Linked DNA regions of Homo sapiens: regions 2 and 3 are each reported to be linked to region 1. Evidence: microRNA targets listed by miRTarBase, many of them from high-throughput screens and not tested one by one. Region 1 holds a microRNA gene; each other region holds the end of a gene's coding sequence.
What was found. Region 1 holds the annotated microRNA hsa-miR-4681 (AACGGGAAUGCAGGCUGUAUCU, at 1,544-1,565, shown strand). A microRNA usually pairs through its seed, bases 2 to 8, with sites in the 3' UTR of a target mRNA and lowers its output. Matches are read on the target gene's strand: a 7mer-m8 pairs with bases 2 to 8, a 7mer-A1 pairs with bases 2 to 7 and ends in A, and an 8mer does both.

Region 2: the mRNA of LRRC1 is a reported target of hsa-miR-4681. Seed matches in the 3' UTR shown: 7mer-m8 at 359-365.
Region 3: miRTarBase lists POU4F1 as a target of hsa-miR-4681. Seed matches in the 3' UTR shown: 7mer-m8 at 1,221-1,227.

The regions. Positions count from the first base shown.
Region 1 is chr10:119,376,432-119,380,673 of GRCh38, forward strand. It overlaps MIR4681 (microRNA 4681), which reads left to right and starts at 1,541; the gene lies at 1,541-1,612. All of the region lies in intron 2 of GRK5 (G protein-coupled receptor kinase 5), which reads left to right.
Region 2 is chr6:53,922,548-53,926,786 of GRCh38, forward strand. It overlaps LRRC1 (leucine rich repeat containing 1), which reads left to right. Exons shown (of 14, transcript NM_018214.5): 14 at 88-1,578. The coding sequence ends at 246. Among named protein-coding and RNA genes, the nearest start is that of MLIP-IT1, 74 kb to the right of the region's middle.
Region 3 is chr13:78,597,581-78,601,784 of GRCh38, reverse strand. POU4F1 (POU class 4 homeobox 1) reads left to right here. Exons shown (of 2, transcript NM_006237.4): 2 at 1-3,423. The coding sequence ends at 370. All of the region lies in intron 3 of OBI1-AS1 (OBI1 antisense RNA 1), which reads right to left. LOC780529 (a long non-coding RNA gene) reads right to left here. Exons shown (of 1, transcript NR_158457.1): 1 at 2,166-4,204. Among named protein-coding and RNA genes, the nearest start is that of POU4F1, 3.9 kb to the left of the region's middle.

The DNA of each region.
Region 1 (4,242 bases):
AAAAAGCAGGAGACCTCAGAAGAGAGTTTGTTGAGTGAATGAAGGACCCAAAATAGCAAAGTTAGAATGGCTGGATGATTTGTGGATACTTAGGGGCCGAGGAGCTCCCCATACCCTACTCCCTAATGCCTTTTTTTTTTTTTTTTTTTTGAGACACAGTTTCACTCTTGTTGCCCAGGCTGGAGTACAATGGCACGATCTTGGCTCACTGCAACCTCCACCTCCCAGGTTCAAGCCATTCTTCTGCCTCAGCCTCCCAAGTAGCTGGGATTACAGGTGCCTGCCACCACGCCTGGCTAATTATTTTGTATTTTTAGTAGAGACAGGGTTTCACTATGTTAGCCAGGCTGGTCTTGAACTCCTGACCTCAGGTGATCCACCCGCCTCGGCCTCTCAAAGTGATGGGATTACAGGCGTAAGCCACCGTGCCTGGCCACTACTCCCAAATGTCTTACATAAAGCAGCCTCTTTCTGGCTTGGAGGAAAAGATCAATGAGGCACATGGAAAGCAGGAGTTCCATGTTCTAGAAGAGCAAGTGCGCATGCGCGTGCGTGTGTGTATGTGCGTGCGTGTGTGTGGACAGTGTGTGTGTGCCTGTGTGTACAGCATCCCAGTGTTCTCCCACCCCTAAAGATAGATTTGGAGACAGAGAGAAAAGTCTTCTGCCCTTGTCCTAGGTGTTTCTCCTCACCAACCCCAACAGACCACACTTTGGAGAAAGATTGTGGGCAGGCCCCCTTCCAAGCTGGATTTCAACAACATTGCCAGCTTCTGTTGAAACAGATCCGAAAGGGTCCACTCCAAGCATGTATCGTAGAACTTCTCATGCTTCCAACTTCAATGTCATTGACTTTCCAGAAGCAACCTATACCTCGGGTTTGCTCTTGATACATCAAGAACTTTGATTTGCGCCTCCTCCTGTCACCTTGATCATTCCCAAATTCGTATTCTTCCTTCTGTGGCCTCCTTATCCATTTCTATAGGAACTGTAAATGTTGCACTAGGGATGATTTTGTTTTTGTGTGTGTGCTTGCTCAGAAAATGAACCCATTGATCTTGATTTGAGGTGAAGAAAGAAATCTAAAAAGATCATTACTGGTCCTTTTATTTCTCTCTAGGCTTCCAACGAGTAGTTTTTTTGCCTGGGATCCTCTCTACAGCTGGGAGAGGCTCGGAACTGAGGTGCTGACAGCTTGTGTTGGAATCGCATGGTGTTTACTGTGCTGGGAGTTTATAACGGCCTTGTTTCCATACTGACAGCAAATGCCATATGGAGAGAAAAAAAAATCTGTCAAATGAACCCTTAAGGGATCACAATATGGCACATGAAATCTCAAAACTGCTTTTGGAAAAGGTGGGGGTAGAGGGGTACCTTGCTTAAATCACATAAGCAGCATGGTGCTCTCTCCCATAATTGAATAAAAATGGAATTTGACACAAGGTAATTTACTTTGGTTCTGTGTTTGTGCTGGGAAAAACTGATTGGGAAAGGATGCAAAGATTTGTTTTCCTCCCCTTGGGGGATTGTGTTGAGTGGGAGGCAACGGGAATGCAGGCTGTATCTGCAGGGCATTGTGCTAACAGGTGCAGGCTGCAGACCTGTCACAGGCCGCTGAGACCAGGTTCCCTACTGTGGCTGATGATCACACTCATCTAGCTTGACATTTTATTACTGTCATTTGAGATCTTGTCTGTTCACCCACACACACTCCTGCTGACCTCTCCAATCTGAGTCCAAGCTCCCTGCGGGCTGGGACCACATCCCTAGGTACCCCTCCCCGTCAGAACCTGGCACACACTGAGGCTAAATGCTTGTTGGAGTGGCTATTTGTGAACCATCTGTGCTGGGAGCGGTGGAGACTGCGCCCACGGCTGAAGGGCAGAGTTTAGGCTGCAGTCCAGGGCTAGTTGGAGCCACAAAACCATTTGAGAGTGGGCCAAGAGGGGACTTGGCAGGTTGCTCATCCATGCTGATCCAAATACTCACTCGGGAGAGAATGAAACGTTTTAGAGTGCCTTCTTCAACATACGCTACTTAGACCGGGCGAATTCCTCCCAAAAAAACCTTGCCCTCAGGTAGGTTACCCATGAAAGAAGGGGGCCTGGCCGCGGCTCTTTCCGTTCCAGGAGGCAGACAGCGGAGTGCTGAGGCCGTGTCCCCGTGTGGTGAATAAATGCCCGGGAGGGCGGGCTGCCTTCAGGGCTCCTCTCTCCGCTCATCTCCGCTTGTGTGCGGGCTGCGCCTCCGTGGGCTCTCGCTGCGTGGGGGGAAGGCGGTCTCAGCAGCCCTCGGCTGACCAGTCATCCCCAAGAACCCTGCTGGCATCCCAGGGAACAGACAGTGTCTTTCCTGGAAGTTCTGGCAAAAGCCCTGGGAGGACTCCGGGGCCCCCACGGATCACAGGCCCTGACCTGATTGGCTAGAACTGAGGCATGGCCACCCTTGAACCTGTCATTATGGCCAGAGAGAGAGGCCTCTGATTGGCTGTGACTAAGTGACGTGTCCATCCGTGACCGTAGCACTGTGGCCAGGAGACAGAGGCCTTTTGATTGGCTGTGACTGAGTCACGTGCCTGTCTCCGTAGCATGGGAGGCGTCAGCTCCCCTTTTAGATTCAGAGGCTTGGGTTGAATTGGTGCAGACTGGGAGAAAGGAGGTTCCCTAAAGGAAAGGGAGATGGAACAGACCAAATTATCACATCCATAACGATGAGAAATGGGGTTTATTAATGTGCCAGCATCTGGTCTGAGTGGTTTCTATGTATTGTCTTATTCATTCTTCGGGACGGTCCTAGGAGTTAGGTCTGCTTACCGTCCGCAGTTTACAGACTAGACAACTGAGGGGCAGTGTCAAGCCTGTTGCCCCAGGTTACACAGGCAGTGAGCGATGGGCTGGGATTCAAACCAAGGCAGTTTAGCTCCAGAGCCCACACTGACACTCACAGCTACCACGAGATCCTCCCTCCCGGCAAGCCATAGCTTTACATCCTGTGGATAAGCATTTTGAGACTAAGAATCAAAGTGTGCCAGCGCAGTGGTTGTGTTCATATCCCCTTGTTGCCTGGCGTATCTCAAGAGAAATCCTTTCTAGGGGGGATGGTGTCTTAGCTCCTCTACACCAGGTAGACTATAGTCATCCCTTCCCTGCAAGTTGCTGTCCTTCCCAGGCTCTATCGCCCTCTTCCCTGTTTCCCACGAACTCATCCGACTGTGTCCCGTGCAGCTGCAACATCGATGGCCTAGTGTTCCGTGCTCCAGAGAGCCTGAGACAGCATGTTTCAGTGGTTCCTTCGAGTATCTTCCTGGCCAGAGAGAACTTCTTGGAGAGGCTTTAGCATCACTGCAGGAAGAACCAAAAGGGAAAGGGCCCCCATCCCAACTCCAGCATGCCCTTCTTGTTTTCAGAGGAGAACACAGAGGCCCAGAGAGGGCAAGTGAATTGCTTGAAGTAACACAGCAAATTGTTGGCTAACACCATGGTCTCTGGGCCTCTTGGTGGGAGTCTTGCAGTATTTCCTCTTCAGAACCCTCTTGGCTATTGAGTGGGTAAGCGCGGGTGACTTCCTGTCTCTGTGCCTTTAGTGCCTAACTGGAAAAGTCAGGGTTTTCATAATTTGAAGCATCCTAAGACTGGGCTTTTCTCCAGTTGGGCAAAAATGATTTTTAAAAACTGTATCCATTAGGATGCTTTGAATTAGAAGTAATTTCTAAAAGTGTTCAAACTGCCCTAAACAAGGAGAATGTGTTGTCTCATAAATCAGCTTTTCAGATATGGTTTGAGCTACAGGCATGGTTTGATCCAGAGATTCATGACATCACCAGGGCACCAACTCTACTTCTTCTAATTTCCCAGCTCTCACCTCCTTGATGTGTCAGGCTCATCCTCATCGCGGCTTTTCTTGCAGTGTCAAGAACACTGCTGCAGCACCTGGCTTCACACCCACTCACCATGACCTCCAGAGGAAGAGAGCACCTCTGCTCCAGTGTTCCCAGGGAGTCTGCAGTCCACTCTGATTCGACTGGCTTACATTACAGGCCTGCCACCCTTATCCAGTCACTGTAATCAGAGAATGTGATGTGCTTAATGGCCACCAAGGAGATGGAATCACAGTCCCCAGAACTGCTGGCATGTCCATACAGAAATCAGAGCATTGGACTGGGGGTGTGGGGTGGGGAGTAGAGGCTGGGTCATCACTGGTGCCTTCTTCTACACTGACGTCTCTCTGAGTCTGTGAAGACCAT
Region 2 (4,239 bases), not on the chromosome of region 1:
TATTGGAATGCTAATGCCTTGAAGCTGCATGTTTTGAAAAAAGTAGTGGAATAAAACCAAAACACTCACTCCACTGTTTGTTTTTAGAGAACACTTCTAAGGCGAGCCACTCCACACCCAGGGGAGTTAAAGCACATGAAAAAGACAGTGGAGAATTTACGGAATGACATGAATGCTGCTAAAGGACTGGACTCAAACAAAAACGAGGTCAATCATGCCATTGACCGAGTGACCACTTCTGTGTAGAGTTTCACCTCCAAGTTTTACCTCCTGTGTCTTCCTCTGCTGTCGAGACGTTCCTGTCTGCTTCCCGGGAGCCTCACGTGCTCCTTGTCCTAACCAGCCCCCGCGCGCCATCTTCCCGTGGAGTGTGGGGAAGCTGCTGTCTCCCAGGAAGTGCCTTACTCATCCCGCAACCAGTCAGCGCACCAGTGGTCTCCCGGTGTGATTTTTTTTTTTTTTAATTTCAGTTGTTTGTAATAAGTAGAATACACTACTGTAAACATACGACCTTTGTTTTTGTCTTATGTTGGGGTAAAGGAAAGCAGGAAGGGGAATTTTTATCCTCCTCCCTTCCGTAAAGTGCTGGGATATTTTGAATCCCCCAAGTTCCCTTGGACCTACTGATGAGAGATAGTTTTATGTATGGGGAAAAATGGATACTTTTTAAACCTTTTTTGGCAGCTCAGATGGTGTAAATTTTAAAATTTTGTATAGGTATTTCATAACAAAAATATGTATTTCTTTTTTGTTATTTTATCTTGAAAACGGTACATATTTTAGTATTTGTGCAGAAAAACAAGTCCTAAAGTATTTGTTTTTATTTGTACCATCCACTTGTGCCTTACTGTATCCTGTGTCATGTCCAATCAGTTGTAAACAATGGCATCTTTGAACAGTGTGATGAGAATAGGAATGTGGTGTTTTAAAGCAGTGTTGCATTTTAATCAGTAATCTACCTGGTGGATTTGTTTTTAACCAAAAAGATGAATTATCAATGATTTGTAATTATATCAGTTGATTTTTTTTGAAAAGATGAACCAAAGGATTTGACTGCTAATATTTTATTCCTTACACTTTTTTTCTGAATAAGTCTCTCATAATGAGTGCAGTGTCAGACTGTGCCTACTCTGATGGTATGTGCCATTTGTAAAATAAAATAGAGCAGAAAAACACAAAAAGAGAACACTGGTTCAGACATTCAGTGGGCAAGTAAATTATGGACTGCAAAATAATGATTTTTATTCAAGAAAGCTTTAAAAGTTTTATATCCAGATATACAACCACAATAAAGCAAAATAACCTACTATCAAAATAGAAATGTTGCTATCTTTATAAGTGCAATTTAATTTGTAAATAGAGTTTGAATCAAAGTATCACAAAATACTGCTTCAAGATTTAATTTTAAATCTGCTAATTTAAGGGATATTGGGAAAAGTTTTGGTGTGTTTCTGTTGATTTCTTTTTTGTATGCTGTGATAAAAGAGAAATGAAAAGTGCCAGTCACTGTGTGGTGTCTAGGAAAATCATATATATTTTTTTCTCCAAGAAATAAATTCATCCTGGACATTGGCCATACAGCTTTTTAAAATTATTACTTTGTATGTTCAAGTGATAGCAGGTAGCCAAATTCTTTGACAGTGTGCTCTGGTCTGTTAAATATCTAAATTACCCGTCAGTTGTGAGTGACCTCCTGTGGGACTTGCATTCACATGGGGCAGAGCCCAGAATTGCCTTTGACTCTGGCTAGTAATTTTGGGTTGTGGCTATCTGGCCAATTGGACTCCTTATAAACCCGTCTTCAACCAACCAAATACAATACTTTTTTTTACTTCTATACATTTACTTATTGGGTTCACTTAGCTTTTTAGTCTGTGTGTATGTAAATATGTGTGTATTTTAAAAACTATTTATGGAGCTGAAAGTACATAACACATAAGTGAGTTTCGGCTGGTCAGTTTTATACCTTGTTCCCTAATCTGTGCATACCAATTTTCTTTTCTCTGTTTTAAGATTTTTGACATCCTCTATTTTGTTTTAAGCTTATAAAGATAATGCCACTATCTCATGGGCTGATTATATATAAGCAAATTGGTTTTATTTAATGAGAATTGTCTTGACGTGGAAGAACAAGTAGAACTTGCATGGCGTGTTTTGTTTGTTTTTATATAAAGCCCATCCTTTACTACTCAGTTCATCATGGCTTTTCTGGACTGGAGGTGGACAGAATGGTGTGTGTGTGCTTAAATTTTCCTAGGAAATGTCATGCACCTAGTTTATTTCCTTTGGCCTATCTCCTTTAGTTCATGTTCACTTAGTTTGCTTTTTGTTTTCAGTTTGGGGGATTTTGTTTGTTTCCCCGCTTCCTTTGAGAGGGAAATGTCGCTTTCATCTGAATGTTTTACGCTGGTGACACTGCAGTGCTCTTGAACTTCAGGGTGCTGGAACCAAACTCAAGCTTCACAGTGGAAACAGCACCAGCCAGACAGTTCTGCCTTGAGAACATGCCAAGCCGTTTCTAGGAAGGCCCCTCTCATAGTTATAAGAAAAACTTGATTATGTGAAACGATACCTTTCTCTGTCAGTGCCCCCCCCCCCCCCACCACGACCCCCGTCCCCATCCAGCCCTTCCTTTAGGAAAGGGAGGAGTACAGTATATGGCTGGCTGTTTGTCTTGTGGGAGTGACAGGTGAAAGCAGGAAAGGAGGTTAGTATGACCTGTTCACCCACTTTTTTTTTTCCCATAGCCAGTTATTTCTTCTTTTTAGCAAGAAAATAATGTCTCAGTGGGTAAAATAGCCAGAGAAAAAATGAGAGGAAGTGAAATAATCAAAGTCATTGATAATGAATAGAGGGATTGGTAAGAAATCATAAAATGTCTGCCTAGATATTGTTTTTTTTCTGGAAAGTTTGGAGGAATTGTCCTGACTGACCCAATCTTTCTGTCTAAAAACATACTAGCTGGCTGTCAATGAGGTGAGCAGGCAAGGTGGGATCACTCGCACCAGCCTCTCATAGCAGCACTTCTGCCATCTCCTGTGAAATCTACCACACCCAACAAGACATGCTTAGTGAATGGGGTGGAGGCTGGGAAAATTCTGTGTCTGAGAGTTACTCTGAACAGCCAGTCCTTCCCTGGTAAAATGACTGACGCTTGGTCGGCCACAGTGGCTCATAGCTGTAATGCCAGCACTTTGGGAGGCTGAGGTGGGAGATCACAAGGTCAGGAGTTCGAGACCAACCTGGCCAACATGGTGGAAACCTGTTTCTATTAAAAATACATAAAATTAGCCAGGTGTGGTGGCGGGCACCTGTAATCCCAGCTACGCAGGAGGCTGAGGCAGGAGAATTGCTTGAACCTGGGAGGCGGAAGTTGCCGTGAGCCGAGATCGTGCCACTGCACTCCGGCCTGGGCGACAGAGCAAGACTGTCTTAGAGAAAAAAAGAAAGAAAATGAGTGATGCTCTGCCCTGGGCATGCTGCTGGTGTGTGGCAAGGCTGCAGCAGCACTCTCAAACAAGGGACTGCATTGCAGCTGCTTATTAATAGAAGGCAATTAGGGACATTGCCACTCAGTGACATCCATGGAGAGTTGCAATCTCACTTCACCATTGTTGTTGTCTTACCTCATCCAATTTTCCAAAGAGCCAATTAAAAAAAAAAAAGAGATAACTTTATTATGGAAAATTCAAAACATACAAAAGTAGAATCATCATTGACCCTCCTATAGCTATCACTCACCTTCAATAATTAGCAACACAAGACTAAGGCATTTAAAAATGCATGTTTTTAAAACATGTATTATGTTTTAAAATATGTCTATAAGAAAGTGCACAATGAAGCATTTTTTTTTAAAGCTCTGGAAAAGCAAGCAAATGTGCTTTTTAAAACTGCTTTGGAGTTACAATTTTTGAGTCAATATGCCAGTGGAATCATGCATATGGATATAGGTCTGAATCCCAGCCTGCCACGTAGGTATGGACAAACTAACCTCTCTGGGCCTCAGGTCCTTCATCTTTAAAATGGGGCAGTAATAGTCCTTTCAGGCTTAGAGTGAGGATTAAGTGGGATACATAAAACACGCTCTCAGGAAGTGGGTGGCTGCTATTATTACAGGTCTTGCTGTTTTTGTTGTTATAGTAGTGTTATTAGCACCCCTGCAATTCCTGCCACCAAGCCAACAGTGTGTCATCAGATGGGTATGTTCTCAGGAATGAGGACACACACTAGTTCTGATGG
Region 3 (4,204 bases), not on the chromosome of region 1:
GATCCCGGGCGTGGGCTCACTCAGCCAGAGCACCATCTGCAGGTTCGAGTCGCTCACGCTCTCGCACAACAACATGATCGCGCTCAAGCCCATCCTGCAGGCGTGGCTCGAGGAGGCCGAGGGCGCCCAGCGCGAGAAAATGAACAAGCCTGAGCTCTTCAACGGCGGCGAGAAGAAGCGCAAGCGGACTTCCATCGCCGCGCCCGAGAAGCGCTCCCTCGAGGCCTACTTCGCCGTGCAGCCCCGGCCCTCGTCCGAGAAGATCGCCGCCATCGCCGAGAAACTGGACCTCAAAAAGAACGTGGTGCGGGTGTGGTTTTGCAACCAGAGACAGAAGCAGAAGCGGATGAAATTCTCTGCCACTTACTGAGGGGGCTGGGAGGTGTCGGGCGGGACAGAATGGGGAGCTGAGGAGGCATTTTTGGGGGGCTTTCCTCTGCTTGCCTCCCCTCGGATTTGGAGTGTCCGTTATCCTGCCTGCATTTGGGGAGTCCCTTCTCGCTCTCTTTCCTCCACCCATTCTCTGATTTTCCTGCCTTTGCTGTCCCCTAGCCTTGAGGACTGGGGTGCTGGGTGTGGGGATTGGAGTATAGGGTAGGGGAGAAGGGGGGGAGCATTCGGGGGAGTGGGGAGTGGGGGGAAGGAAAGCGGAGACCCGAGCAGGGGTTTTAAGGAGCAGGATGGTTCTGGGGTTTGGGTGGGGGGAGACGCGGGAAGGGTAGGAAAATGGACTGTTTCTGACCAGAGACACTTACCTAAATATCCTGGGGACCAAGGAACTATGTACAAAAACAAACCTACCAACCACCAAAAACTAGACAAATAAAGACAAACTAAAACAAAACAGAACAAAAGCAAAGGAAAATGCTTTAGAAATTTTAACTCCGGGGAGCCATAATCTGCAACTTCATTTTCCCCCATAGAAGAGAAAAAAGAGCACCACCATTATTACCACCTCCCCAACCCTACACGCACGAACTGAGTCGAAAAACGAAAACCAAACGAGCGAGAAGTTGAAGTTCTGGGTATCAAAGCTAGTTGTTCTGTCTGCGTGTTTAATTTTTCCCTCTCTCACCTCCACCCCATCCATATCCTCTTTATTTCCTCCGTTCCAATGAGAGGCCTATGGCTGCTCTCCAATCCCGGGAAGTGAGTGGGAGCACAGCTGAAAAGAGAGGGTCAGGGGGAGGCTGGCTGCTTGCTTAGGTGGAATCCAAGTTTTCCCGTGGCCCTGCCTATACTCTGGTGGCCTGGTCCTGTTGGGGTGGGGGTCTTTGGAGAGAAGGGCATAGTCTTTGAGCTACTAAAAAGCAGAATTCCGGAGCTTCGAGATATCTTATTCTAGGAAAATGAAACAATTTTAACAACAGTTTTTTTTCCTCTTATGTCGAAGATCTAGTTTTAGACAATTTCAAAATAAGCTTTTCCCACTCATAGAACTTTAACTTGCCCTTTCAGTTTTATCTTTTTTTTAGAGAGAGGTTTAAACTACTGATTTTTCCTGTTGATTCAAATAGACTAATGGGGTGAAAGTTATTAGGAGAGATACTCTCTCCTGTTTTCTCCACTGAACGAGACTCATCTTGCTCTTCTAGGTCCCGTTTCTTCCTCTCTTGGAGGACATGAAATTATAGAAATGTTGAGAAGTTCCTGCTTTCTTTTGCGGTAGGACTTGGCTGTGAGAAAATCACCTAAATCCCAGAAAAGAGGAAGACAGATTTAAAGTGCCCCCACCCCCATTTGTTTCAAAGAGGTCTGCATGTTGGGCGAAAACAGAACAACTGTGTTTCCTTTTACTTGTTCTTATTATTCAAGAGTCATTTATTACAGGGGATAAATGTTGGGTAGCAAGAACTTTAATTTGCACTACCAGTCTCCCAAATAGAAAATCATGTATAGTATTTCATAGTAATAATCAGGTACCTTACAAGCTGCTGGTGGATTTTAAAAAATTAAGATAGTTGAAGGTGGTTAGGTAAAATGCCTGCTTTGTGTACAAGATACTCTTTGGATCTCTCGTAGAGATGGTTTGTTACCATCCTTTAATCATAACTAAAACATTGAAAACAGAACAAATGAGAAAAGAAAAAAAACCTGCCGATTAACAAGACTGAAATCATGCATGATCTGAAAGGTGTGGAAAGAAACACAATTAGGTCTCACTCTGGTTAGGCATTATTTATTTAATTATGTTGTATATCATTGTTTGCAGGGCAAACATTCTATGCATTTGAAACTGAGCACTAAACTGGGCTAGCTTTCTGGTAGACCGTTTTGTGGCTAGTGCGATTTCACAGTCTACTGCCTGTTTCCACTGAAAACATTTTTGTCATATTCTTGTATTCAAAGAAAAAGGAAAAAAGATTATTGTAAATATTTTATTTAATGCACACATTCACACAGTGGTAACAGACTGCCAGTGTTCATCCTGAAATGTCTCACGGATTGATCTACCTGTCCATGTATGTCTGCTGAGCTTTCTCCTTGGTTATGTTTTTTCTCTTTTACCTTTCTCCTCCCTTACTTCTATCAGAACCAATTCTATGCGCCAAAATACAACAGGGGGATGTGTCCCAGTACACTTACAAATAAAACATAACTGAAAGAAGAGCAGTTTTATGATTTGGGTGCGTTTTTGTGTTTATACTGGGCCAGGTCCTGGTAGAACCTTTCAACAAACAACCAAACAAAAAGAAAACACAAAGAAATGGGGGGAGGGTAGGGTGTTGAAGGGGGACAAAAAGGGGAGAGATTGAGAATGATGTATTTTTTTGCTGAATCAGAATTCACTTTCAGATAACTCATGAAAAGTGGTGCTCTAAATAAAATGAATTCTATATTAGTTGCCTGTGTTTATAAAAGTTATTATTTTTTAACTGCAGAAACTCTTAAACCACAGCACTTGATCCAGAGTGGTGAAAACCAATAAATAACCAGGCACCCAAAAAACATTTAAATTTAGGGTCAGGGACAGAGGAATTTGGAGGTTTAGATGTGATATTCTACCCTAAAAACACCTAGTAACTGAATGGCTTTTCTTTGGAGGGTAATACATTTTAAAACATTTAGTGTGCCACCTACTGCTCCACAGTGACTAGAGAGCCTCTATTTCTTGGTGACTTGGGACTAGATCAGATGCCAAATGTACAAAGTTTCTTAAGAGTTGAGATTATATCATCTGAAGTCATCTTATTTTAGCCAAATCTTTTTAATTTCACCGGCAAATCTGTGAAGGAAAACACTTGATGTTCAAAAAGAATAGTACATTTTAAAAGCTGCGATTTTAAACAGTTGTTAATGTTAAAAAAAAAAAGCACTAGAGGTATTTTTAAACATAGAACTCTTCCATAAAAAGTTGATTTGTTTTTGCTGTTATTGACTTGAAACATCATCAGTTTTAAATAAAATGCATTTGTAAAAAAACCGTTATTTTATAGAAAAGTATGACTGGATTTCATTGTTGGAAAAACAGGACAGAACAAATGAAAAGATTTACAAAGGGTTTTTTTTAAAGTCTGCCTCAAGCAGAAATGTTGCAGGCAAACACATGTGTATTATATAATAATGATCAATGTAGGTATTAAGAATTTAAGAATTTGCTTTAAATAAAACCTTTACCACATAAAAATAAGAGTATTATGTTAATAAAACATCATGAAAATGAATTTCCTATTTTATGTAGTAGGAAACTGTGCAAAACAAAAAAAAATGCTTTGCTTTCTGGTAAGCGAATCTATATATGGCTTGAAGGAGTAGTAAGACTATTCTAAGACGCCTTTAACTGTCAATCCATGAAAAAAAAACAAAAAGGGACCTCCTGAAGAGGCCAAACTATCATTGAAGTGGGTGTCAATGAGTGATAGTTTGGCCTTTCAAAGTTTTCTAGTTCTGAAGAGAAGTTCACTCTAAGCGGATTCCTCCACCAGTTTTGGGGTGAATATGATAAAATGTGTGTCTCGGATTCTTTTAAAGAATAATCTCAAAATAAGTTTGAGAGAGTGGGAAAATTGGGCTCCGTTTGCATTTCAGCTTCTCAGGAAATCCAGGCGGCGGCGGGGGTGGAATAGGAAAAGCAAAAGACAAATAAGCATTAAAGCATCTGCCACATTTATGCCATCCATTTGTCTTAAATTTCCTCTTTTCCCCAGTTCTAGCTCCAGGTCGTGTTCCTTCTGTAGGTCTAAAAAAATTATGTCCTCAAGAC